Homo sapiens: one gene and its partners. The protein of the gene in region 3 interacts with the protein of the main gene of each other region in a pairwise test. Each region holds a gene or a part of one and is shown on either strand. Other genes may lie near its edges. The genes, in order: CDPF1, PRDM6, KCTD9 and IL16.

Region 1 (3,812 bases), on a different chromosome or scaffold from region 3:
AAAGTAATTTTTCTAGTCACATGAACTGATTGGTTCCAGGCAATTAGAAAATGGCTATAAAATAACCTTAATTTTAAAAAAAAATCTTGGGTCTTCGTTTTCCTATTAGGAGACTGAACTGACCACATGTATTGATTTATATCCTGAATATATGGGAACTTCTGTGTTTGGGATGTCCTACTGTAAGACTGATGAATGTACAGAGTTAATTTCAGGGTACAGTTTTGCCTTAATGGTTTTAAAAAATAAACTATTTTTTAAAATTTTTTGGTGAGTTTTGAGTGATGCTGCGAGATGGACTGTTTGGTCTAAAAGAACCAAGTCCCCAGCTGTGGGGTCCGCCCTCCGCCAGAACAGTCCCTGCGCCCCTCATGGAGGCTGTCTCCACCTGCACAGTCCCTTTTGTGTCCTTCAACATACAGAATGGATCAAGGACAATCTGGCTCCGGAATACGACATCCTTTCGTCTGAAGTCACATACAACGGGAACTTTTAAAGCAGTGAGCATCTTAAAGTCCATCAGTGCACAAGTCAGTAAAAACTCTTTATTCATTCCTTCATGTGACAGTTGGCCTTGAGTAGTTACAAAGACAGAGCAGTTCCTGCCTCTCAGAATTCTAAGCAGACATTCCAGAGCTCACAGATCAGTGTCCCACCAGCTGCTACCCTGGAAGCTTCAGGGAGATGGGGAGCCTGGAGTAGGGGGGTGCTGCAGGAACCCCCGGCAGGCAGTGGGGCCAGGCTTCACAGGCACCCAGGGCTGAGTGCGAGATGGCAGGGGGCAAGCAGGCAAGCAGTGGGATGGTCTTGAGGTGTGGGGTGAGGGCAGGAAGCCCACGGTATTCCTGACTTGGAGTCGAGGGAGACAGAACGGAGGGGCCCGAGCTGAAGACAGAGTCTGAGGGAACTGGAGAGGCTAGAAGCCAGCACTCAGCTTCCCAGGAGACCCCAACTATTGCCGGGCCAAGTGTCCAGGGAGAACGTCGGGTATCCAAATGTTTCAGTGGAAGATTCCTTTTCCAAACATGAGCTGGTTCTTTGGGTTTTTAATTATAAACATAATACATGGTCAAGGTTAAAAACATTTTCCAAGCACCACATAAGGATATGAAATAAAAATTCTATCCCCCTCTAGACCTTCCAGACTGGGTCCAGAAGGAGCTGCTGTCAGTGATTTTCCTTACAGAGAGACCATTGCAGCCACCTACAGTGCACCATGGCCCCGACACAGTGTGGCATCTCCCCCCACACGCACCTGCACGCAGCCTCTTAGGAGCTGCCCTGCTGAAGGAGGTCATCCCTCTCAGTCACATCTGAGCAGCACTCACTCAGGCCTGGGCCCTGAGGGGCATGTGGGGGGACCTGGCCGGGTTCCTGGCTGTGTCTTGTCTGGCATCTGCCTTTGGACTACCCTCTTGCTACAGCTCCCTGGGCCTGTGGCTGCTCCAAGCTGGACTCCAGCTCCCCTGGGCTGCAGTGCTGCTCCCAGTGGTCCAGAAACAAGGCCAGGCATGGCGGCTCCCAGCTCAGCAGCATCCCTGGCGCAGGCTGGCCCAGGAGCTCTGTGCAGGGTGCCGCCCGATGACCTAGCCCCAGTTGCACTCACGTCCGAGAACCGGGCTGGCTGGGGGTCCTCTTTGATGGAGCTTTCCTTTTCTCCAAGTCTTGCCGAATTTCCTGAGGAAAAGCATTGATGTTCTCCCGGACACAAGGGAGGCAGAATCTCTTGGAGTAGAATAAACTGCATTCCTTAAAGAAGTGGACAAGGATGGAGGCTTGAGTATCCTGGGAACATGGTGCAGCTCCTCCCAGGGGCCAGCCCTTCCCACACTTGGGGGGCTGGGCTGGGGCCCCAGCATGCACAGTGTGGGCAGGTGGCCAGAGCTAGACCAGCAAGAGGGAGAGCCAGGCCTGAGGGCCTGGCAGGGTGTCCAGGAGAAAAGCAATGCAGGCCTGGGCTACCCTGGGTGGGAACAGCTGGGATGGGACAGAAAGACTCTGGGGCCTGCTCTGCTCCATCACGGGGCAGTGACAACAATGGAAAGCTGGAGCACAGGCCATGCCCCGAAAATCCCAGAGTCCTCCCGTCCCAGCTATCGCAGCACGAACAGTGGCCACCTGGTGCTGGGAGCGGCAGGGGACAGGAAGGACAGCCCCACAGACCAAAGACGCCATGGACGAGCCAGCTAGTCTGGGCAGGAGGCCAGAACCGTGCAGCCATGTCCGCTCTCCTCTCTCTTACACACTAGAACTCCCGAGATTCATCACGGTGCACAGCACGTGGCTAAGGATGACATTCCCCAGCCCCCTCTGTAACTGGGCATCGCCATGTGACTCAGGCTGGTTAGGGGCGTCAGCAACTGTGTGTGCCACCTCCTGGTCATGCCCTTTGAAGGCATGGACTGTGCTCTCACGTCCCTTCCCGCTGCCTGGGATGCAAATATGATGGTGGGAGCTCCACAGCCACAAGGGACCCAAATAGAGACTCTGCTGAAGACAACAGGGGTGCCCTTCCAGCCAAGGCCACCAGTTCTGGACTCTTACATAGGAGAAAGTAAGTAAATAACTATTTGCTTTACTTAGGCCACTCTTATTTTTGGTGTCTGTCTGTTCTTAAAGCTTAGTGTGCTCGCAAACATAAGGCTGCCCTCCTGCAGTTCTTAGAAAAGACCCTTCGCCATGGAGATCCGCTCACTAACAACCTACTGTTTAAACAAAGAAAGCTGCAGACTTGTGGTACCTGCGTGCGCCCCCCACCCCCGCCACCCCGCTGCTCACGAAGAGCAGCCCAAGGCCAAGGTGTTGCATTCAAGACCTCCACCTCCCCACCTGGCCCACCCACCTTTGCAGTCTTCCTTTCCCAGCTTCTCCTGGACCACCAGCTCCTCCATGAGCCTCAGATACTCCCATGCCACACTGCGGAGGCTCCTCCCACCCTGGCCCATCTCGTCCCCCTGGCTATTGATACAGCTCCCCTTTGTGTGTGTCAACCTGTGGCAGATGCTCAGGGACTTCTCAGACTCTGGGGTCACTCTGAGTACACTGGGCACGCTGTGAAAGCCATGCTGCTCCACTTCCATCCGTCCTTGGGTTTACAGCTACCCAGGTGAACCTGGCCCACCCAGCCTCTCTGAAGCTCAGTTCCCTCATCTATAAAATGGGTGGAATATAATACTGCTTTACCTGACTAAGGGGCAGGACTGAATGAAGCCTCAGCAGTAAAACAGGTCCCAAGCACAGGACCTGGCACACAACAAGTGCTCATGAAAGGACAGTCCCTTCTCCTGGAGATCCCTCCAAGAACATCTAGAAAGTAAGTCACCATCCTGGTGAGAGGGCGCACAAGGACTGTCTGCACTGTTGGTGGGAAGGGGAGGAACCCTGAGGGGCCACTGGGGTGGGTGCAGAGCCACCAATTACCTATTTCCATTCCTACACCAGGCTGAGACCCTCTAACTGACCCTAGCTTGCCCTCTCACCTCTCCCCTTCATCAGCTGAGGGGCCCCATCTATAATGGGGTGAACCCGCTGCTCCCTCTCTCCCAGCCCTCCCTACCCAGGGAGAGCTCCAGGATAACCACAGCAAGGACAGGTGGCCCCAGCCCACGCTGCTTACCCACCGGGCCCACACACACCAGCCTGCTGCACAAACTGCAGCACGAGCCGAGGACCAGGAATCTGTCCTTGTCGGAGGTGAAGGGATCCTTCATGACATAGCTTTCCTCCAGGAGGCTGCAGGAGAGTGAATGCAGCGTCAGAACAGCCCAAATCTCTGCCGTCGGAAAATCAGCCATGACCTATGGCCAGGCAGC
Region 2 (7,638 bases), on a different chromosome or scaffold from region 3:
GGTGAGGGTTTTCTAGTTTTTAGTTGGGCAATACATTTTACACCCTGCTCATCTTAGACTCACAGCATGCAGGAGTAGGGTATAAAATATGTAATAGGGTGGGGAGGTCAGAATTCGGTAGCTGCTTCATAAAAGCTTAGGACAGAACACTGCATTTGTCCTGCCTCTTCTTTGGACTGTTGAAGAAATTGAGGTCCAGATAGTTGGAGGTCGGTCACCGTGTCAGGGTCTAAGTTACCAGCAAGTTAGGCGACTCCAATTGATGAGAACAGTCAATGGAGGTACTGAAAGAATATCGAGTAGTACACAGCAGCTTAAGGGAAGCAAGTGTGGCCAGTAGCGAGGAGGCAAATCCTTGACAGTTCTTCAGGAGAGGCCCCTTTTACTGCTTTAGCCACTGGCTATAGGTTAGGGCAGGGAATATCCCGCTCTGGACAGAAAACTGGCATCTTCTTGCTTCAAGTCTCTATTTAAATTTCACTTTCTAACAGAAGCTTTCCCTGGCCACTATATGTAAAACAGTAACTCCTTCCACCTACATGCACTCCCTTTCCCTCTATCCTTTATTGCTTTCCATAGCACTTATTCCCATCTAACCATTACTGATTTATTACTTACTATTTACTTTCAGTCTCCGCCTCCAACCCCCTTCTCCATGATCCCATTTCTGAGGGGTGGAGTGTCCTCCAAAAGTTGCCTGTGCCCTCAGGAGAGGAGGTTCCCTTAGATTCCAAGTCTGGGCAAGTTTCAAAGCTCCTCCCTTGGGAACCTCATAGGGATGGGGGTGGGGTCCTGTTTTTTTCTCACAGCTTTCCCTTTTGCCTGCAATCCAAGATCCTCAGTGAGAAGGCTCCTCCCTGGTCCCAAACCATGGAGGAAAGGAGCTTTCTAAACAAGCGAATGAACAGGTATGGAAGGAAAAAGGGCCACCGCAGGCCAGAGTCTCTGTGCTGTTTAGATACCACATTTTCAACCAAGTTTTTGCTGGCAGGCTCAAGGGACCTGTCTGCTAATACGGCTCAGCAAAGATTCCTCCTAGCTACATCCAGCCTTTCCTTCTCCTCCCGCCCCCCTCCTTTCACCTGCAGCCCACCCCCCACCCCCATCCATTTCCTAGGAAAACAAATCTCTGGGAGGAGGCAGGAAGAGTGGATCTCAGCGAACCCTTCTGAATAAATGTCTATATTAATGAATTATTAACTCAGCCACCCGTGACCTTAAACCTACTAGAAGCAGGAGCACCCAGGGCAGAGCGGAGAGCTGCTGAATCCTTTATTGGAGTCCTGTCAAAGGCAACCGACCATTTGTTCCACTCCCCCATCAAGAAAAAATAATATGAAAGGCAAACTTTTGAATTGTATGTTAAACGGAATCAGATAGAGGGTCTCCTGGACAGAACCCCCTTCTCTCCTCCTACCCCTTCTGCTGCTCCCTCCCTACCCTGGCCTCCAGCTACATCCTTCCCCTCCCAGCTCAGGGTACAATGGGCTTCCCAAGGATAATTTTCGGGGCGAAAATGCTCGAGAAAATGATGAATTTGGGTAATTTATCGATCCTGGCTCCTCTTCCCACTTGTTTTATTTTAGAGGTCATTAATCAATGAAGAAAAACACCACCGTGTCCCCCCGTTTGCATTTAATACACTCAAGGCTCCTCATTTATTCCTCTGGAACAAATTCCCAGCAAATATTCACCCATCGATTTGGGAGCGATGGATTTTTATAAAGGTTTGATCGCTTTCTAAGTGGTCGAAGTGATTTGTTTCCGTGGTCTTCTCAGTATTGAAGGGGGTGGGGGAAGCGGATTTGAGGGGGTGCATGTCCTTGCCGTCGGTGGGCTCACTTTCTAAAAACTATTGAGATGCGCCAGGGTGGCCGTGACCAAGCGGGCCCAGGGTCAACTGTGTGAGGGGGAAGCGCCCCTCAGAGCGCGCGCAGCGTCGGGGGTCCAGCTTACGCCGCTGCGCGCCCTTGTGCGCACCGGGTGAGGATGCCGAGCTCTGCGGGCATCCCGGAAGCCGCGGTGGAGGCAGGGGCCCCGCTCGGCGCAGTGGGCCTGCTGGGGAGGTGCAGGGGAGGTCCTGACTCCTGGTCTATTCCCTTCCAGACTTTTTCGTTCGCTCCCGGACCTTCAGGGCTCTCCCTCAAACTTTCTCCTGCCCCCTTCACGGGAGGTTCCTGTAGCCTCTGGGCCTTAGGGTCCCGTAAGCCTCGGGATCGACTTGTGCCCGGGGTGGGTGTGGCGGAAGCTTGAATCGGATTACCCAGGTACGCCACCTGTAGACGTAGTGGGCGAGGGGGACTTTGCTACCTTCTCAGCTTCTTCCCTGGACCCCGCAGCGAGGGGAACCAAATCTCTCCCATGATAGCCCCTCTGGCGTCAGTCTGGACCGAGTGGCTACAGGTTGGACTAGGGTAGGCAGAAGATGCACTTGGCACCTTACCGAACGGTATTTGAATCCGTCTCCATTACTCATTAATGGCGTGACCTTAGGCAACCCATCTAAACTTTCCGAACCTCAGCGGTCCCCATCTACAATATGGGGGTTAATGATAATGCCTTCTCCGCATGTAGGTGGATTAAATGGACATAAAGCGCCTACCCCCGCCCGGCACGTCCAAAACTCTCATTAACAGGTCAGCTAATCTTATTACGAGAGGAACCCTCCCTCCTCCGCTTCCCAGAGTGTGGGCGGCATGAGGCCACGGAAGCAGCTGCTGCAACTAGCATTTCAAAATCCAGAGACTTTCTAATGGTGGCAGGGGGTGAAAGGGTAGGGGGGAGGCAGGGTTGGGACAGGTAGAGGTAGGTTCTTGGGGACTTCCAGTCTTGGGGACCAAGCGCTTGGAACTAGCTGGGTTTGGGCAGAAACAAGAAGGCAAATGACGGGACCGCCGCCGGAGTCCGGACTTCCATCCCTGGAGTTCACTGTCTCTCCCAGGGAACAGAGGAGTGTCCTGGTTTCTCAGCAATGAACCAGGAGAGTGTGAGAAAGAGCATTTGTTTCTTCTCCCGTGGCCCGACAAGCCACTCTTCGGCAGTTCTGCGAGCAGATTAATTGAAACGGGCCTGGAACTTCATCCTCTCCTCCCGATGGAGTTGCTGGAGGTCTGCGGACACTGCCTGGTTAGCCTCCGGGACCACAGCGCCGTGGGCTTTCCCTCGTGGTGTCTGCCTTAAACTTGGGTGCTATCAATCTATCCAACAATGACGGATGACCTTGTCATAACGACGCCAGTCAAAACATTTTCGGTCTAACTCTCTTCCAACCAACATCGAAGCATCCTGAATGAGACCCGGATGAAGTCTGAACAGCACGTTTCCCAGGTTCAGAAAACTTGAGTGGTGGGAAGAGAAAAAGAAACAAGCAGAAATCAGGAAAGAATGGCTATTAATTGCTCAGATTGGCAAGTGCTAAATAAGTTAGGTTGTTTGGAAAAAGATAAATGCCGTTTCTTCTCTTTACGGTATGGCCAGAACCCCGGCGATGGGAAAGTACCTCCTGAGTCGGTCAATTTCACACACCCTGCCTGTGCCCTCTACCATCTACTACCGAAAATGCCAGGAAGAGCTGGGGGGCAAGTGCCTCCTTCGTGGGTGCGAGACTGCATCGAAGGGCTGCCCTGGCACAAAGTCTGGGGAGAGGACATGGTGGAGGTGGGGCTGCACTCCCACCCTGCCCCTCTAACACCAGGTTTTGGGTAGAGAAACCTATGCGTGACCTCCTGCGGCAGCCGCAGGCAGCTGACCGCAAACAGCCTCGCCCGTGTCCCGGAGCAGTTGTGCCACCAGACGTAACACTGGATACTTGTCTCCGGGCCCCAAGAAGGAGAGGGAAAGAGCCCTCCAGAAGACAACCCGAGAAGGGGTCAGCAGAGCGCTGGGTGGAGTGCAGACTCCATTGCAGCCGCCTCCCAGCCCCACGGCCAAGCTTGAGTCCCTCCAGGACCAGCTGCTCTCGGTCTCAGGACCCTCGGTCCTACGCCTCCCTGCACCGACAAGCCTCCCTCCTGGGCTGCAGACAGAGGGTTTCACTGCAGCGCGCAACCCGTCCCGCTCCGCCCCCAACTTTTCTCCCCGGAGGATTTATGTTAGAGGTTGCGTGGCGGGCGAGTGGACTCTGGCACCCAGAAGCACTTCAGGAAAAACTGAGCCGGGCAAAAGCGCAAACCCGGTCCTGGCGGCGCGGGCTTGCTCCAGCGCGGACACCACAGCGTGTGCGGAGATGCATTCCCGTTGCCGCATTTCCACTGCTTTCAAGATCAGGGCACTGAGCTGGGACCCAGAAAAGACATATCATGGGCAGAAAGAGACAACAGGCTAGCGGCAGACGTCACGCCAAAAAAACAGGGGATGGGAGGGCGGAGGAGTTTGTGCGGGAAAGGCGCTCTGGCGATGTGGGTCGGGCCGAATTAGAACTTCCTTCTTCCCTCTCCCCTCCCCTTCTTCTGGCCTGCCTCCCCTCCCCCCTCCGTTCTCTCTCTCTCTCTCTCTCTCTCTCTCTCTCTCTCTCTCTCTCTCTCTCACACACACACACACACACACACACACACACACACACACACACACACACACACACACACACACACTCACTCTATTTTGTGCTGTCGTAAAACCCACGTGTCCAGCCGGGAAGCTGCCAGAGCGTGGAACCAAGGAGCCAGGACGCGGCAGCGGCCAAGCGCAGCAGCCCACGGCGGTTGAGTCGGGCGCCCAGGTCCGTCCGCACTCTCGCGCCCTCCGCGGGCCTCCCAATTTTCTCGCTTGCAGGTCGGGAGGTTTCCGGGCGGCACAATCTCTAGGACTCTCCTCCCGCGCTGCTCAGGGGCATGTAGCGCACGCAGGGCGCACACTCTCGCGCACCCGCACGCTCACCGAGACACCCGCACGCACCCACCGGCAGCACCGAGTTTTCAGGTAAGGTGAGGCTGGTCTGGGACTTAAGAGTCTAGGGCTTGGTAGATAGGAAGGTTGGTGGTCCTAGGTTGGGGGCGGGCGGCGAGACTGTTCTGCCTCCTGGCGCCTGAGGCCAACGCGGCTCGGGCGCTGCGCCACGCCGGCTCGGGTCGGCTCCGGGCGCTGGCTGAGGGCGGGGGCTGCGTCCTGCAGCCGAGTTCTACGGGGCAGCGCCCTCCTGTCGGGCCCCAGCATTGCTGGATGGGAGCTGGACGCTGCGATCGGGGAGGCAGAGCAGGGTGCACACAGCTCCCTCTGTGCGGCGCCGCAGCTTCGGAGTAAACTTTGCGCCCAAGCGGAGTTGGGAAGAGGGAGCCGCGGAACCGGGCGGCCGCCGGCTGAACCACCGGCTCGGGCACTTTCTCCAGGGTCCCAGTGGCCCTCTTCCCGGCCCCTTTCGCCCAGCTCACGCGCCCCCTCTTCCCTGCCCTCTGCCCCCAGTTCGAGGCGCCGGACATGCTGAAGCCCGGAGACCCCGGCGGTTCGGCCTTCCTCAAAGTGGACCCAGCCTACCTGCAGCACTGGCAGCAACTCTTCCCTCACGGAGGCGCAGGCCCGCTCAAGGGCAGCGGCGCCGCGGGTCTCCTGAGCGCGCCGCAGCCTCTTCAGCCGCCGCCGCCGCCCCCGCCCCCGGAGCGCGCTGAGCCTCCGCCGGACAGCCTGCGCCCGCGGCCCGCCTCTCTCTCCTCCGCCTCGTCCACGCCGGCTTCCTCTTCCACCTCCGCCTCCTCCGCCTCCTCCTGCGCTGCTGCGGCCGCTGCCGCCGCGCTGGCTGGTCTCTCGGCCCTGCCGGTGTCGCAGCTGCCGGTGTTCGCGCCTCTAGCCGCCGCTGCCGTCGCCGCCGAGCCGCTGCCCCCCAAGGAACTGTGCCTCGGCGCCACCTCCGGCCCCGGGCCCGTCAAGTGCGGTGGTGGTGGCGGCGGCGGCGGGGAGGGTCGCGGCGCCCCGCGCTTCCGCTGCAGCGCAGAGGAGCTGGACTATTACCTGTATGGCCAGCAGCGCATGGAGATCATCCCGCTCAACCAGCACACCAGCGACCCCAACAACCGTACGTAGCCGCAGCCCGCGCGCTCTCTCCCGGGGCGCCGGCGCCGGCGCCGGCGGGCGCGGGTGCCTGTCAGGGAGGCGGGTCGGATAGGAGTGACACGGGGCCGGGTGGGTGGGGAGCACCTGGTCCTGGCCGCTGGCCCGCGCCTCCCCGATCTCTGTGACAAAAGTTTTCTGGCGTTGGAGAAGGAAAGAGAACGGATGGGACGGCCGGTGGCACTTTGGGGTTCCCTCTCCCTCCCTCTCCTCACCTGCTTCACAGTCCCAAGTGTTTGGGGCCGGAGTCTACCGTGGACCCGGCCTAACAGACCTCTGCCCTCCCGCCGGACAGTGCCCGGGGCCAGGCGGGTACTGGCAGCGTGTGACAGGGGGTGTCTGGGTCAGGCCCTGCCTGGCCTTAGCCGGGACGAGGGAGGGACCCTCAGCGTCTCTGGGGAGCACGCAGACCAGGGCTTGTTTTTGCTACTCTCCACCCCACCTCTGGAGGGGTCATTTTCGGGCCGCGGGGTTGTGGGGGAACCGGCGGGAGCTGTTCGCTGGCCAGGCCTCACTGGAGTAGGAATTTTAGATGAAACTGAGTCCGTTTCTCCTTGAAGGCAGGCAGTATTCTTAGATCTACTATTCATTTAAAAAGAAGGAAAAGAAAAAAAAATGACTGCTACTTACTGAGAAGAAAATTTCTGTTCTCCTCCGATTCCGCTGATCCCGCTTTATCCGCGCACCTTTGACCCCGCAAACATTCATAACCCATGTTGGTTTATGTATTTATTTTTAGAAATTAGGGTGACTGTAATTTAGTAAAAGACGCTTACTCCCCTCTTCCTCCAAGTTAATAGCAAATGCCTAACTAAACATCAGAATTCCTGTAGCTTCGGTTTCTATATTCACAATTTGAAACGCTTATCACAAGTACAGTTCCATTTGGCGGTTTTGAAGCAAAACTCTAAATGAAGATCAAGCAATATGTACTGCTTTATACCTGCTTCTTTTTGATAATTTCAGAAGTTATACTGTGTTTACACCTATACTGTGTTGGGAGTGTTAAACGTGCTCCCAGAGACTTCTGGAGATAACATTAAAGTGTGTTAAGAGCGTCAGATTGAAAGCAATACAGGATTTGAAAGATCAGCATTCATTCAGCTATTTTCTTCATCTCATTCCTTCGTCTGGCTTCTGTATGAGTAAAGTTAATTTAAAACATTTATTTTTATTCAATTTTGAATAAGTTGCTTCTTGCAAAATGTCTACCGCTCTGTGAACTTCTTAATTCGTTGTAAAAGCAAAATAAGTTCAGTTATAGCTCTTTAAAGGATTCCCTAAGTCGTTGATTTGATGAAAAAAAAAACACTGGGCAACTGCCTCGTGGTTGAGGTCTATGAATATTTTCATTATGTTGGACATAGCTGTGATGGAGATAATAATTACCAACAGAAAGAGCAATCGTATTTACTTTTTTCTTTATGAAGTTTGAGAGTAAAGCACTGGCTTAAAATAGTGGTTTCAACTCTAATTTTGCTGTGCAGTTGAGAAGACTTGTATTTCAGAGTTTCAGAAAGTTTTACAACATTATACTCTCCCAACAGATTTCAAAAAATACTTATCTCCTACTGAATTTCTTGAATGTGTGTTTTTGAA
Region 3 (7,031 bases):
TATTTATTAATTGCTATTAATAATCAGCCTCTCCCTAAGTGTATGTTATTCTTTGAAATATTAGCCATTGATAGGATGAGTCATCCTAGTTAGCAAGATATTTAGAAATAAGTTCTAGTGCATGAAGACAAATGGCTTCAGATTTTTTTCTTTTCTGATTTTTTGGTTTTTGTTTGTTTTTTACTTTTATTTATTTATTTATTATTTATTATTATTATTTTTTGAGACGGAGTTTTGCTCTTCCACCCAGGCTGGAGTGAAGTGGCGTGATCTCAGCTCACTGCAACCTCTGCCCCCCAGGTTCAAGCGATTCTCCTAACTCAGCCTCTTGCTTAGCTGGGATTACAGGGGCTTGCCACCATGCCCTGCTAATTTTTGTATTTTTAGTAGAGACGGTTTTCACCATGTTGGCCAGGCTGATCCTGAACTCTTGACCTCATGTGATCCACCTGCCTTGGCTTCCCAAAGTGCTAGGATTACAGGCGTGAGCCACCATGCCCGGCTTATTTTAATGTTTAAAGTCAATCCTGTATTTGGCAGAATTTCACTAAATTTAATGATAAATATTTAGGAGATTCTTAGTGGCTAATTCATAGTCTGAGTCACTGAAAGTCCTCATCATTTGGGAAAACATGTACTTTCTAACAGTGGAATGTAGTTCATAAATACATAAATATACAGATGTTTGAGTACATGCCCAAAAGTATGTTACCAATGGGGTGTGTGGTCAGAAACATTTGAAGGCCTTAGTTCTAATCACTGGAATCTTTGGTTTAAATTTTGAGGGTTTTTTTTGTTTTTGTTTTTTAAAACTGCTCCGAAAGAGTCAGTTATGTTGTTTGTACCTGTCATCCTTTTTCCATGTGCCTCAACATTTTCGTTATTCTTTTTAATATTCCCTGTAAGAGTTGGCATTAAGGAAATTGAAATGGGGACTTGCACATCTGCATGCAGTGTGTGGCTTCTGAGCAACTTAATGTCAGTGCAGAGTTTCTATACGTCTTGAACACAGAGTGCTTTTTTTACTTCAGAATATTCAATAATGAGCTGTGCAAGTCCTAGGCCTTTTGTATACTGATTAATTCATCATTCATTCATTCATTCATTCAGTGAACACTTAGTAAATGCCTTCTGAGTATGTGGCATCATGCCAAACATGGCAAACAGGGTAGGAAATACTTTCATTCTGTACCGTGTTTTCATTCTTGGTCCAAGAAATAACTTTTCTTCAGGTTTTGGTATTAGGTCAGAAACATGTTGGGGGCAGGCACAATGGCTCATGCCTGTAATCCCAGCACTTTGAGAGGCTGAGATGGGAGGATTGCTTGAGTTCAGGAGTTCAAGACCAGCCTGGGCAACATAGTGAGATCCCATCTCTAAAACAACAACAACAACAAAGAATGAAAAAGAAATATGTTGTTAGTAGTAAGTATCCAGGTTTGAATCCATTACGTTGTTAGAGTTGGAGAAAGGTGAAAATTTATCTGAACCTCTGCCTCTGAAGGCTAAACATTAATAAGAACCTAGTGAGGGCCCACTTTTTAAGCTTGAACATTTCTTAATATATTTGATACATAGAAAAGAATACAATAAAGAATATACATAAAAAGAGGAACATAATATAGCAAACATCTGTAAATCTGCCAGATAACCCAAGAAGTAGCATGTTATCAATAACATAATGTGTTTATCCACGTTCCTGTACTCCTGTTTTGTTTTTCTCTTTGCCGTGTGTTTTTAAATAGTTTTGTCACATATATATGCATAACTAAATTACCTTTTTTTTTTTTTTTTGAGTCGGAGTCTCACTCTGTCGCCCAGGTTGGAGTGCAGTGGCATGATCTCTGGCTCAATACAACCTCCGCCTCCCGGGTTCAAGCAATTCTCCTGCCTCAGCCTCCCAAGTAGGTGGGATTACAGGCGCCCGCCACCATACCTGGCTATTTTTGTGTTTTTAGTAGAGACAGGGTTTCACCATATTGGCCAGGCTGGTCTCAAACTCCTGACTTCGTGATCCGCCAGCCTCAGCCTCCCAAAGTGCTGGAATTACAGGCTTGAGCCACCGTGCCCGGCCCTCACCTTTTTTTTTTTGAGACAGAGTCTCGCACTGTCACCCAGGCTAGAGTGCAGTGGCGCGATCTTGGCTCACTGCAACCTCTGCCTCCTGGGTTCAAGCGATTCTCCTGCCTCAGCCTCCTGAGTAGCTGGAATTACAGGCACGTGCCACCACTCCCAGCTAATTTTTGTATTTTTAGTAGAGATGGGGTTTCACCATGTTGGTCAGGCTGGTCTCGGCTGACCTCCTGATCTGCCCGCCTCAGCCGCCCAAAGTACTGGGATTACAGGCGTGAGCCACTCTGCCTAGCCACTAAGTTACATTTTTAAAAAATCAGCTTCGGGACATACGGTATCTCAAATTGATATTATACTGTATATAGTTTTTTGTGGAGACAATGTCTTCCTATATTGCCCAGACTGGTCTCAAACTCCTGGCCTCAAGCAGTCCTCCTTCCTCAGTCTCCCAAGGTGCTGCGACTACAGGCATGAGCCATCATGCCAGGCCAGTCCTTGCTTTTTTCGTTCAATATAATTCTCTTCCAACCATAATATCTGACATAGTGATAATTTATTCATTTTTACTGCTTTATTAAAGTACATGTTATACAAATACTACCATGATATTCCTGTCAGTGGACATTAGGTTGTTTATTTTCTTTATATTTTGTTGTTAAATTGACAGTGCTGTCATGAATATTTCTGTATATGTATCCTGGCACACAGCAGCAAGCATTTTTCTAGGGAGGTAGTTAATCAAACTTTAGCATGCATCAGAGTCACTTGGAGGAGGAGGAGGACTTGAGAAAACTGCTGGACTTCATCCCCAAAGATTAATATTCAGTAGGTCTGGGGTGGGGTAGGAATGTACATTTTTAATTTGCAGGTGAAATGTGGTTCAGATGCTGCAGGTGACAGGATCACACATTTGAGAACCACCACTCTAAGGTATAGACACATAGTTGTAATTATTGGGTGTTAGAATATGTAAATATTCAGTTTTGCAAAATAATGCCAGATTGTTTTTCAAAGTCATTGCAGTAATTTATATTCCCACCACCATTGCATAAATCTTCCCTATTGGTCCACATCCACTCCAACACTTGATATTACCAGTATTTTCCATTTTAAAATTTTCTTTTTTCACCTTAGAGTTAATTATCTCATCTTTTTTTTAAATTATCTCATCTTTTAAAGAATAAGATCATGTAAATATTTAAAATGTATTTGACTAAAAGTATAGGTAGAGAAAATTGAGTTCTGTATTTAGTTACTAGTGGTGATTAGTGGTTTTGTTGGGTAAATCAGCCTGCATAAATTCAACAATTTATGTGTATTGTATATTACATAATGCACAATAAATACTTGTGTATTTATCATAACAACTTTTTGCAAATTAATTTTTTTATTGGACCTTTAGGATCCAGGCAGACAGCCAGATTAGAAAATATTTAGTGATATGGTAAATTGTTTTTGATACTTTATTAGGATTGATTAAAGTGGCAATAAAAGTTGAATTCAAATACACAAATACTTGTGTATTTATTGTGTATTATGTAATAAATCTTGTGGGTATAAAAGAAAAAAATATTTTACATGCATGTGCAGGTTTTAATTTTTAAATTTAAATAATACAGGTTACAATTTGAAAATGGTGTTTAAAGGTAAATTAAAACTAGCCAATCGTACTAGGCATGGTGTTCCATTTACTCTCCAACTCATAGGCAGCTTTCACTTGTCATGGGATCTGAAATTTAAAAATAATTGACTCTGAAAAGTAGTATAATACAGACATCATGAACTTTAATAGACATGCTTCTCAATAAATGTAAAATGCTTCTATTCTTAGGGCCTAAGTTGTTAAGGTAGATAATCCCAGTGACATGGAAACATCAGGCCACATGGTGGAGATAACACATACAAAGTAAATGACCTTTGTAAGCACTATCATTTTATGATTTATTTGGCTCAGTATGAGGACAAAAACAATCTTAGTATATACTAACTGGAGCTTATGTCCATGATATACAAGATTTTTATTGCTCCTCTTTCTCAAAAGAGTTATATAAAGAAGAATGCATGTGCCAGTCTGTTTGCAACTTTCTCCGTAACTTAATCATCTTTTCCATATGTATGACAAATTTATGTTGATATATATATTTTAAAACCTGGTTTCTAATTAGTTTAAAATACAGAGTTTTTGCATATTTGAATATTAGTATTGCAACATAACTCCTTTTTATTTGTATGGTATTGTTAGTATGTGCGAATGATTAGTTGGAAAACAAACGTCAAGAATAGCCCTCCAAGTGAAAACAAGTATATTGGCCCAACTTAAGGGAAATTTTCAAATTTCTAGAACTATAAGATTCTTCGTATTAATTTTAATTCTGTTTTCTCTAATTGACCACCCTTTGGTTATTTCACTTAAAGGAAATTGTTAACTGCCTGATTGCAAACTGCTAAAATAATTTTATTTATAGAACTAGTATCTGGAGCTATGGAGACCTTAAAATAAATTAAAACTTCCCCCCTTATTACAAAAGTAATATAGGTTCATTGTAACAAATTTGGAAAACAAACAAAATAAAGCAAAAAACTTAGCAGGGTGTGGTGGCTCATGCCTGTAATCCCAGCACTTGGGAGGCTGAGGCGGTTGGATCACGAGGTCAAGAGATTGACACCCTCCTGGCCAACATGGTGAAACCCCGTCTCTACTAAAAATACAAAAATTAGCTGGGCGTGGTGGCACGGTTTTACCATGTTGGCCAGGCTGGTCTTGAACTCCTGACCTCAGGTGATCCACCCACCTTGGCCTCCCAAAAAGTGCCGGCATTACAGGCTTGAGCCACCATGCCCAGACTGCTTTAGAATTGCATTTATACTGTGTATTTTTTTACCCTAATGACAGTGTAAGAGACTTAAATGAATATGACTGTCACACAAAAAAGGTGTGTCCTACTTCAACACTCAACATTCAAGAAATATTTGTCAAAGACCTGCTGTAAGCCAGGTAATGTACCATTTGAACCTATGGCGGTTATTAGTAGAACAGCTCAGGAATGTACTTCTTTAGTGCTGCTTATCAGCTTTACCAAGGGATAATTGGTCACCTCTATTCACAGAATTCATAACAACTTTTTGCAAATTAATTTTTTTTATTGGACCTTTAGGATCCAGGCAGACAGCCAGATTAGAAAATATTTAGTGATACGGTAAATTGTTTTTGATACCTTATTAGGATTGATTTAAGTGGCAATAAAAGTTGAATTCAATTTATACCTAGACTGTGCTCCTTAGTAGTTTTACAGCCTACAAGGAAATACCTGTTGTACTTTGATTGCCTTGAAAATAGTCCTTGCCAAGCAGTATGTGTGGTTTTTTTCTATCATCTGGTCACATTTGACTTCAGTGGGGAAGAAACAGAAGATGGCAACATCCCAACCCTCTAAATAAAACAACAAACAGGTCTTGAGTTGTATTTCATCAGTTTGTTACTTTGGGTTCCTATGTCATGGGAAAGCCTAATAGAATTAAAATAGTTGTGTTTTTTTTTCTTCATTTTTTTTTTTCTGCTCTTTAAAATGGCACTGTCTAATAGAACTACTGAGATGATGGAAATTTGTGCTATTCAATATGGTAACAATTAGCCAGTGTGGCAGTTGAGCACTTGAAATGTGGCTAGTGTGACTGAACTGCATTTTAACTTTTAATTTTAATAGATTAAAATTTAAATAGACTCATGAAGCTAGTGGCTTCCACACTGGACAGCACAGCTTTAAAACATGGCAGGTGGCCTTTATTTTCATCGGAAGACAATAGACCCACAGAAAAACCAAGTCAATCATATGGAAGTAGACGACAATTCAAGTTAGTGTATTTTGAATAAGTCATATAAGATCTTAAGCTATAATATTACATTAAGTATTAAGCATAATACAGGCAGGTGCATTCAACTTGCATCTATTTTTTGGTATGGCCAAGAGAGAACAGTGAAAGAGATGCTGAGAGAGAAAGTTGATGTTAGGGCAAGGAGGGGATATCAGGCAAAAGAAAGCCATACTGAGATGTAAGAGCCAGAGGTAAATAAGAGGGAAAAGAAAGATTTAGAAAATTCTTTGTATGATGGCAACTATGCCAAGAACATTGAATTGGGAAAGAGGTGCTTGTGCTTCTTACCCTCTTTTCACAGCACCTTCTGACTGCAGGAGTTGTTTTGCATCTGCTTTGGTCAATCTCTTGCTCCTTTGCATGTTTGCTTCTCTCTTCTCTGTCTTTACTCTCTTCATGCTCTTTGCCTTAACACAACCCCAGCTTTGCCGTGTGCAATGCCCTAGGTACTGTATTTCGCTTCGCTTTGTCCCAGGAATGTGTATAATGCAATTACAGAATACCTCACTGTGTTGCAGAGGTGAACAATCATAGGAAATATGGGGGACATGTTTTAGTCAGGCTTTTTTTTCTTTTTTTTTTTCTTGGAGAAGGAGTCTCACTTTGTCGCCCAGGCTGGAGTGTGGTGGTGTGATCTCAGCTAACTGCAACCTCTGCCTCCCGGGTTGAAGCAATTCTCCTGCCTCAGCCTCCCAAGTAGCTGGGACTACAGGCACACGCCACCACGCCCGGCTAATTTTTTGTATTTTAGTAGAGATGGGGTTTCACTGTGTTGCCCAAGCTGGTCTCGAACTCCTGAGCTTAAGCAATCCATCCGCCTCAGCCTCCCATAGTGCAGATTTTACAGGCGTGAGCCACCGCGCCCAGCCCTACTCAGGCTTTAATTATTTATGGCAAGCCTGCTGTGTGTAGGACACTGTGCCAAGTGCTTTGCAGTATTTTTTTTATTGTGATAAAAGATGGAACAAAATTTATTATTTTAACCATTTTTTAAATGTGTAATTCATTGACATTGTTTACATTCACAATGTGTGTAACCATCACCACGGTTTATTTCCAGTACTTGGTCATCATCCCAAACAGAA
Region 4 (7,745 bases), on a different chromosome or scaffold from region 3:
TGCCGCATTTGCTCAGCCCTACTCAAGAGGTCTGTGCTTACTCAGATTCGGGAGCTGGGATGAGTTCTGAAATTCCTCGTTGGAATCTTTCATATGCCGATGCCAGACTGCAGAAAGGGCTTAGATTTCCTGTGGCTTTTCTTTGCCAGGTGAGAGGTGCAGTGAGCAGCAGGGAAGGTGCACCATTCCCCAGCATCCAAGTTCTCAGGGGAGCCTTGAACCTTTGGAAGGGATGTTTGTAGGTGACCGCCTCCTATTGGCTGAGCAAGGTAGCCATGTCTTAGCTGCTGTAACTGTCCACTGGAGGAGCATTTCCATCCCAGCTGCACATGCCAAGACTCAGCCAGGGGCAAGACCGATGGAGATCTCCACGCGGGATCCCAGCATCGGGTCACTGTCCAGCATTACCAGTTGCTCCCACTCAAAGCAAACCTCTCCTCCAGCATCTCCAGATGTGGCAAGAACAGCGCCTCCCTCCTGATGGGCTCCGCCCTTCCACCCAACGTCCTTCACATCCACCTGAGACATCCACTGAGACTTCTCAGTGTTTCTGGCACACACTGAGCAACACTGTCTAGTTTACAAGACTGACATAGATTCGTCCTTATTTCAACAGGAATTCAAAAGAAGAACTTGAAGTAAATTCCTGATTTCAAGCTGCCTTCCTAGTTAACCACAACTCCAAGTTCTTGGAACTATTTGTTTATTTTGCCCCATGCCTATTTTCTCCCCGTGTTTATGAGCATATTGCTATTCACAATGAATTGCTTTTTAATAGCAAAACGTAACCTATATATGAAAATGTATTACCAATTCAAATGCACAATAAAAAATATGTATTTTATATATATATATATATATATATATATATATTTTTTTTTTTTGAGATGGAGTCTCCCTCTGTCACCCAGGCTGGAGTGCAGTGGCATGATCTCGGCTCACTGCAGTCTCCGCCTCCCGGGTTCAAGCAATTCTCCTGCCTCAGCCTCTTGAGTAGCTGGGATTACAGGCATGTGCCTCCACGCCTGGCTAATTTTTGTATTTTTAGTAGAAACAGGGTTTCACCATGTTGGCCAGCCTGGTCAGGAACTCCTGACCTCAAGTGATCCGCCCGCCTCGGCCTCTCAAATTGCTGGGATTACAGGCGTGAGCCACTGTACCTGGCCAGTAGATTTCAATTCAAAGTGTACCTCCCTCCCTCTCACTCCTATACCCCTGGGCCACTGCTGGGAACCAGAAAGGGGGAGGGGTTGACAAAAGGGCAGGTCTCAAGGTCCTGGTCTGCCTCTGCCAAAATAATTCTGCCTTAACTGATTATACATGAGTTTTCATGATAGATTTTAATTCTAAAAAGGTTTCCATGAATACAAACAATTAGAAAATAATAATTCTATAGTCAATTGCATCCAACAGAGATTATTTTTTAACCCTATGGATATATGACCATCTTTGTGTTGAGGAAACTCAAGTATTTATTGAGGCATGCCACAAAGCCAGTGAGAGCATGGATTTTGGAGTCAAGCTGGGTTTGGGTCCTGGGAACGTCTAGCTGAGTGGTCCTGTGCAAGCCTCCTCACCTCTCGGTTTGGGGATATACTCCCTAAGCTCCAGGTTGTTGTAAGGTTTAAATTAAATGAGGTATGTGAATATTTTAGCTTGGTGCCTGGGGCTTGAAGAGTGGCCAGGAAATGGTTGGGGTACTAAGTTTTATTTAAAAGACTCACTGGGGATTGAATAAATGAGCAGTAGAGGCTTCAAGGGTCTGACCCACCTGACGGCTCATGCCCACGTCATATCTGCAGCAGGGGAGGTGCCTTCTACTGTGCTCGTAAATGTTGACCATCACTTAACTTCAGGGTAAAGAAGGAGAACAGAGGAGGAAAAAGGCTGAACGGTCTTCTCCTTCCGGGGGAAACTGGAGAAATAGGAAGGGGAGCCACAGAGACGGCAGCTCCCAGGCTGCTTCCAGGAACCCAGTGGGAGCTTGAACTGGCCTCCTGGGACAAAGGGGTCGTCTTTGTATGGCTCAGCCTGAAGTGGGAGGATTTCACCTGATAAGGGCAGGAGGAGAAGATGCTTCCCTGTATTCCACAGGGAACCTCTATTCTTATGCTGTTACCTCATTCTCCAGCTACAGAAAGCAAACTTGCTATGGACCAAAAAAGAAAAAAACAAACAAACAAAAAACAAAAACAAAAAAACACCAATCCTGGGACCTACCAATGCAGGAATTAGTCACGGGACCCTTATCAAAAAGCAAGCAGAGTGAACACTTTTCCCATGGTCAATCTGCAGAGATGCCCACCCGCTGTGCCCACTTTGGAGAAAAGGAGTCTGGCCAGGCAGCAGAGAAGCCCCCATCAGGTGCCCCGTGGCCTTTCTCTCTCCTGCTGCCTTCCTTTCCTCCACCTCCTTCCACACCCCATTGCCAAGGATGAGACGAGGCTGAAAAGTCAGAAATCTCAGGACCAAATTCTCCCCGTGCTGCAGAGCCAGGTCAAGCGATATCCCTCTGCCCGCTCTGGCCTTCTGAAGCTGCTTCCTCCTGTACCTAACTGTGACATGGTGACACAGAGATTCCTACCAACACAATCCTGGCTTCTGCTCCTGCCCCTGACCCCAGCACCACTTCCAAATATGAAGTTACGTCCTAGCAACCAAGACCCTCCCCATTCAGGTCAGAGAGGCCAGCTTCCTCCCTCCGGTAACGGCCACCTGGACAGAGCAGCTGCCTGACAGACATTCACTCACCTGGTGCCCACCTACCTCCCTATGCACAGTCCCCCGGGGCTGCCATCTCCCTTGCTCCTCTCTCCATCTGCCCAGCAGGGATTGCAGCACCACTTATTCCCGGACAGCCTGTGGCCCAGGCCTGGGTCAGAGCCGGCAAGGATTGAGAAATGGACGCTCAGTTCTCAGACGGAGGCCGGCCTTTGAGTCAGATCCCAGGCTCCGATAGTTGAGATGCCGTGAGTAGGACACAATATTCACCACCTGCTCTGGACAGGTGACTCAGGACAAATGTGTCCCACCTGGCATGGATTTGCTCGAAGACTCCTGATCTGAGCCATCTGACTGCTCCACGTGAAAAGGCTTGATCCAAAAAGGGGGGCTGCCAGTGCTGAGAAGCTCAGCCTCAGAACAAGGTCCACCATCTGCTGGGCTGGCCGGCAACACCCAGGAGGCAAACCCAGTGCAGAGCCACAGAACCACAGTGAGGTTCCTTGGTCCAGCCCAGTTGCCCCTGCCTTCTTTGGACAACACAGAAATGACTAGGAGAGCCGAAAGGTAGCAGACATGACTCGGTGCCTGCAATGTGCCTGGCACGCTGCTAGGAGCTTTCTATAAACCTCATCACATGCTGGAAGCTGTGGCACGTGCCTATAATCCCAGCTACTCAGGAGGCTGAGGCAGAAGGATCACTTGAGCCGGGGGATTCAAGACAAGCCCGGGCAAACCATAGCAAGAACTCCTCTCAAATTATATAAAAATTTAATAAAAAGAGGAAAAAAGTCATCACATACAATCCTGCCATCAATCTGGTAAATATATCACCTGCTTTGCAGACAAAGAAAGCCACTGCACAAACGTTCATTAAACACCTACTACGTGCCGTGGAATTTCCCCAAGGTCACACAGTTAGCAAGTTAGCAAGTCAAAATCCACCTGTCTCCAAAGCCCAGGCTTTTTCCATAGCATTTCATTTCTTGTCTGTGCCACCCTTTCCCAAAAACAACAGACTGGCTCTCAGAAGCTTATGTAACTCAGTGGTCCTCAAGCCAGCTGCATCAGCAGCATCTGCTAGAAATGCAAGTTCTCAGGCCCTGGCCTAGACCTCCTGAAGCAGCACCTCTGGCACTCTGTTTTCACAAAGCCTCCAGGTGATTTTGGTGCGTGCTCAGGTGCGAGAGCCCATGACCTAACGTATACAGAGCATGTTGAAAACTGCAGCATAAAAGAATGGGGCACTTTTGTGTGTGTCCTGTTGGCATTAGTGTCATGAGACCAGAGTGCCTTTCCCCCACGTAGCCCCTTGGAGAATCTAATCATAAGGTGGCATTTAATCCATCTGCCCCGCAAAGAGCATCCCACACATCTCTCCTAAGCTCAGTCTCTGTGAGCCCTGTGTACATGCTAGGCTGAGGTTTTTGTATGGACCTCTCTTCTAAAGAATGGAATGTTTCCCAACGCTCAGCACCAAATGTTTCAGGGCTTCCTGGGGGCTTTAATGAGGGTGTAGGTGCAACCTGTAGGAAGCCCTTGAAATTCCATGCAAGGCTGCAAAGATCTAGCCGCTGCTGCTGGAGAACACAGGCCCACGGTCCCAAGGGAAGCACGGGAGGAGGGAGCACTCTGGGGATAAAGCTGCCTTTGTCAGCAGGCACAGGGGACATTGTAGGGCTGAGTCTGGAGTGAGTCTGGAGTGCAGTGAAGGAATTTCTAAATTGCAGAGAGTGAGCGCCTCTGTCAGTGTCGCCTGCTCAGCTCACACCCACAATCTCTCTCACAATGGCCTGGGTGCGGTGGGGCCAGGACAGACTCAGGCCCCACTTCCATCTTGCTCTGGCAGAGAGGCTGAGGAGCAATTCAGCACCCCAGGGCTATGGGGGCTGGCCTTGCCCTTCTTGGATCCTGAGGCCTGGGAGGGCCCCACAGCCCCCCTCCTCCACTAAGTCTAAGCTCTCTCTTGTCATCGGCACCTGAATCCAGTTCCCGCCTCTCCCTCTATTTTCCGAAGATCTGTTCTTTCTCACTCTCAGAAGGTAAATTTATTCCAAAGTGTAGTTGAGACTTGGCCCTGATTTTTCCTAATACGGGGTGGTTTGTGCTTCAAGGTGGAAATTTTATCACCCCTCTGCCCTTCAGGACATCCTGCAGAAAGAGTCTCCACCCTGCCCAACACTCCATAGTCCAGCTCACTGCAAGCCAGAAGAGACGGGGAGGAAGACGCAGGTGAGAGAGCCCCGCCCTGGTTAGAACTAGGAAGTTCAAGCACCACTTGAAGCTCAACCAAGAGCTTCCTGTGTGATCTTGGTCATTCACAGCCTTAGTTTGCTACGATGAAAATTAGATGAAATTAATTGTCTGCCAGATGAAATTAGAAACTTCTACTGCACAGTGTTACTGAGAGAATGAGGCAATAGAGGAGGAAGCATGCTGCCAACAGCTAACCAAGCAGAAGCCTGCTCACCTTTTTGGCCCTTCCAGCCCACGGAACTGAGAAATCTGTTCAACAAGTGATTCTGATGCTTGCTAAAGTTTCATAATCAATAACCTGTATTTCCTTCTAATTCTCCTATTTTTTAATTACAAAATTTTATTTCCAAAAGTAAATTTTTAATTACAAAAATTTTAATTACAAAATTAAAATTATAAATTTTGAAAAATTAATTTAAAAAATTTTAATTTTAAAAATTCTAATTTAATTTTTAAAAATTAAAATTACAATTACAAATTTAAATTTAATTTAAAAAATTAAAATTACAAAAATTTTTAATTTCAAAATTTTAGTTATAAAAGTAATACATGTTTGTTGTGGCAAGTAAACATATTCAGAAGGCAAAAAGAAAGTGTGTCCTTAAAATGACACAACAGGGTCATCTCCTATTCTGTTCAAACAATGGCAAAATAAAGAGCTTAGGGTCAGAGCAATAAGCCCCAGCTTCTGTACTAAGCGGCTCTGTCAACTGCAAGTCCTTTTACCTTACTGAGTCTCAGTTTCCATGTCCACAAAATGGAAACAATAACCCAATAATCTGACAGGGCTGCTCAGAGGTCTGAGCAAAGAGCTGTCCTGCAATCTATAAAATGCCTTGGGAATTCTTTATGCTGTACACTTTTGGTCATGCGAACTGTATTATCATGAGCAGAATATAATTTAACAATTTTAACTAGTAATGTAACAATTTTAACTAGTAATGTAACATGACGCAGAATATAATTTAACAATTTTAACTAGTAATGTAACAATTTTAACTAGTAATGTAATGTTACTAGTAATGTAACCTGACAGTAATGGACATGATGATAATAAATTCTCTCTGCATTTAGCACTTTCAACTTAGACAGAATGTTGAGGCCAAAACTTGATGATTTTATTGTACGTCCCCACTTACGGATGCAAACACTGAGACTCAGAGAAGTTACATGTCCAAAAAGTGCACGTCCAAGGCTGTGCAGTCAGAAGCCATTGGTCCCTTGATTCCCGCTCCCCGGCTCTCTTCCCCTCTTTCCCTGGCCCACAGCAACATATAGATTCAAACCAAGGGTTTTAACTTCATACGAAAATTCTAGCTGACTTCCATGTAGACCATGCTGCCCTCTCTCTGGCCTTTTTTTCTTTCAAACTGTCCATCAGGCTTGCATCCTTTCAAAGTAATATTCCATCACTAAGATACTTACAATCACGACAAGCAACTGAAGCCAGTCCACAAGCAAATATACCACGCACATGCCAACAACTCCCAAATTCACTTCTCCAGGCCTGGACTTCTCCTTGAATTCTGACTCTTTTTTCCTACCACTTGCTTAACATCTTCAGCTGGGGTTTAACTTAAATTTCAAAAGTAACATTGCCTGGCTGTTATTCAGTGAGGCAAAAAAAAGGAACACTGCCAACAGTACTCTTGATTCCCCCCCTAATAAAATGTTTCTTCCCTAAACTTCCACATTTTGGTAATTGTCACTAGCATCCATCAATTTCCCAAGCCAAAATCCTCAGTATCAAGGTGGGAAGAACATAGCACAGGCTCTGAAGCCAAAATTCCTGGGTTCATCTCGCAGGTCTGTCCCTGCCCAAGTGCATGATCATAGGCAGGCAAAAAGGCACTTCTCTGTGGACTGGTTTTGTCATCTATAGGCTGGCTAGTGCACTAACATCCACCTCACAAGGTTTGTTTGGGCTAAATATGGTAATACTTGTAAGGTTCTTAGAACAGTGCCTGCCAGAATAAGCCCTCTGTGAGTTTTTATTCATCTTGATCCCTCCATCTCTCTAACCTTCCACATCACATCCAATTTATCAGTGATTCTCGTTGGCTCTATCCCCAGAAGCTATCCCACTTTCTTTCCGCTTCTCTCCATCTTCACTGCCGCCACCCTCCTCTTACCAGTGCCTCTTGTCTGATTATAGCTTTCACCTTCTAACTGGGATTCTGGTTCCTATGCAGACCTTCATAATCCATTTTTCACATAATAGCAGGTAGGCTTTTTGAAAATATAAATTGGATCAGCATAAAATTTGCAAGGGCTTTGAATTACTTTTAAAAACTGTTTTTTGTTTGTTTGTTTGTTTTTGAGACAGCATCTTGCTCTGTGGCCCAGGCTGCAGGGTAGTGGTATGATCATAGCTAACTGCAGCCTTAAACTCCTGGCTCAAGCAATCCTCCAGCCTCAGCCTCCCGAGTAGCTAGGACAACAAGCACATGCCACCACATTTGGCTATTTTTTCTTTTTTCTTTTTTTTTGTAGAGACACGGTCTCTCTGTGTTGCCCAGGCTGGTCTTGAACTCCTGGCCTCAAGCAGTCCTCCTTCCTTGGCCTCCCAAAGTGCTGGGATTATAGGCATGAGCCACTGCACCCAACCACTTTTTTAAAAATTTAATAAACTTTATTGTTCTGAGCAGTTTTAGCTTTACAGAAATATTGCATAGAAAGTACAGAACTCCCGAATACTGATCTCCCTCTCCACACACACAATTTCCCATACTATTAACATCTTGCATTGGCGTGGTACCTTTTTACAA

Evidence for each region.
Region 1: the proteins of KCTD9 (region 3) and CDPF1 interact in binary tests that used the Homo sapiens proteins (3 or more experiments, as listed by UniProt).
Region 2: the proteins of KCTD9 (region 3) and PRDM6 interact in binary tests that used the Homo sapiens proteins (3 or more experiments, as listed by UniProt).
Region 4: the proteins of KCTD9 (region 3) and IL16 interact in binary tests that used the Homo sapiens proteins (3 or more experiments, as listed by UniProt).

The regions. Positions count from the first base shown.
Region 1 is NC_000022.11:46,243,490-46,247,301, forward strand, and holds the end of CDPF1 (cysteine-rich DPF motif domain-containing protein 1), read right to left. Parts: intron 3,733-3,812; coding exon 3,621-3,732; coding exon of another isoform or gene 3,617-3,620; intron 3,307-3,616; coding exon of another isoform or gene 3,188-3,306; exon of another isoform or gene 3,184-3,187; intron 1,750-3,183; coding exon 1,603-1,749; coding exon of another isoform or gene 1,325-1,602; 3' UTR 524-1,324; downstream 1-523.
Region 2 is NC_000005.10:123,084,603-123,092,240, forward strand, and holds the start of PRDM6 (putative histone-lysine N-methyltransferase PRDM6), read left to right. Parts: upstream 1-4,638; 5' UTR 4,639-4,917; intron 4,918-5,397; 5' UTR 5,398-5,412; coding exon 5,413-6,004; intron 6,005-7,638. UniProt on the Homo sapiens protein: Putative histone methyltransferase that acts as a transcriptional repressor of smooth muscle gene expression.
Region 3 is NC_000008.11:25,448,417-25,455,447, reverse strand, and holds part of KCTD9 (BTB/POZ domain-containing protein KCTD9), read left to right. Parts: intron 1-1,872; exon of another isoform or gene 1,873-1,904; intron 1,905-4,966; exon of another isoform or gene 4,967-5,068; intron 5,069-5,777; exon of another isoform or gene 5,778-5,925; intron 5,926-7,031. UniProt on the Homo sapiens protein: Substrate-specific adapter of a BCR (BTB-CUL3-RBX1) E3 ubiquitin-protein ligase complex, which mediates the ubiquitination of target proteins, leading to their degradation by the proteasome.
Region 4 is NC_000015.10:81,192,159-81,199,903, reverse strand, and holds the start of IL16 (pro-interleukin-16), read right to left. Parts: upstream 3,026-7,745; 5' UTR 2,752-3,025; intron 429-2,751; exon of another isoform or gene 94-428; coding exon of another isoform or gene 42-93; intron 1-41. UniProt on the Homo sapiens protein: Interleukin-16 stimulates a migratory response in CD4+ lymphocytes, monocytes, and eosinophils. Primes CD4+ T-cells for IL-2 and IL-15 responsiveness. Also induces T-lymphocyte expression of interleukin 2 receptor. Ligand for CD4.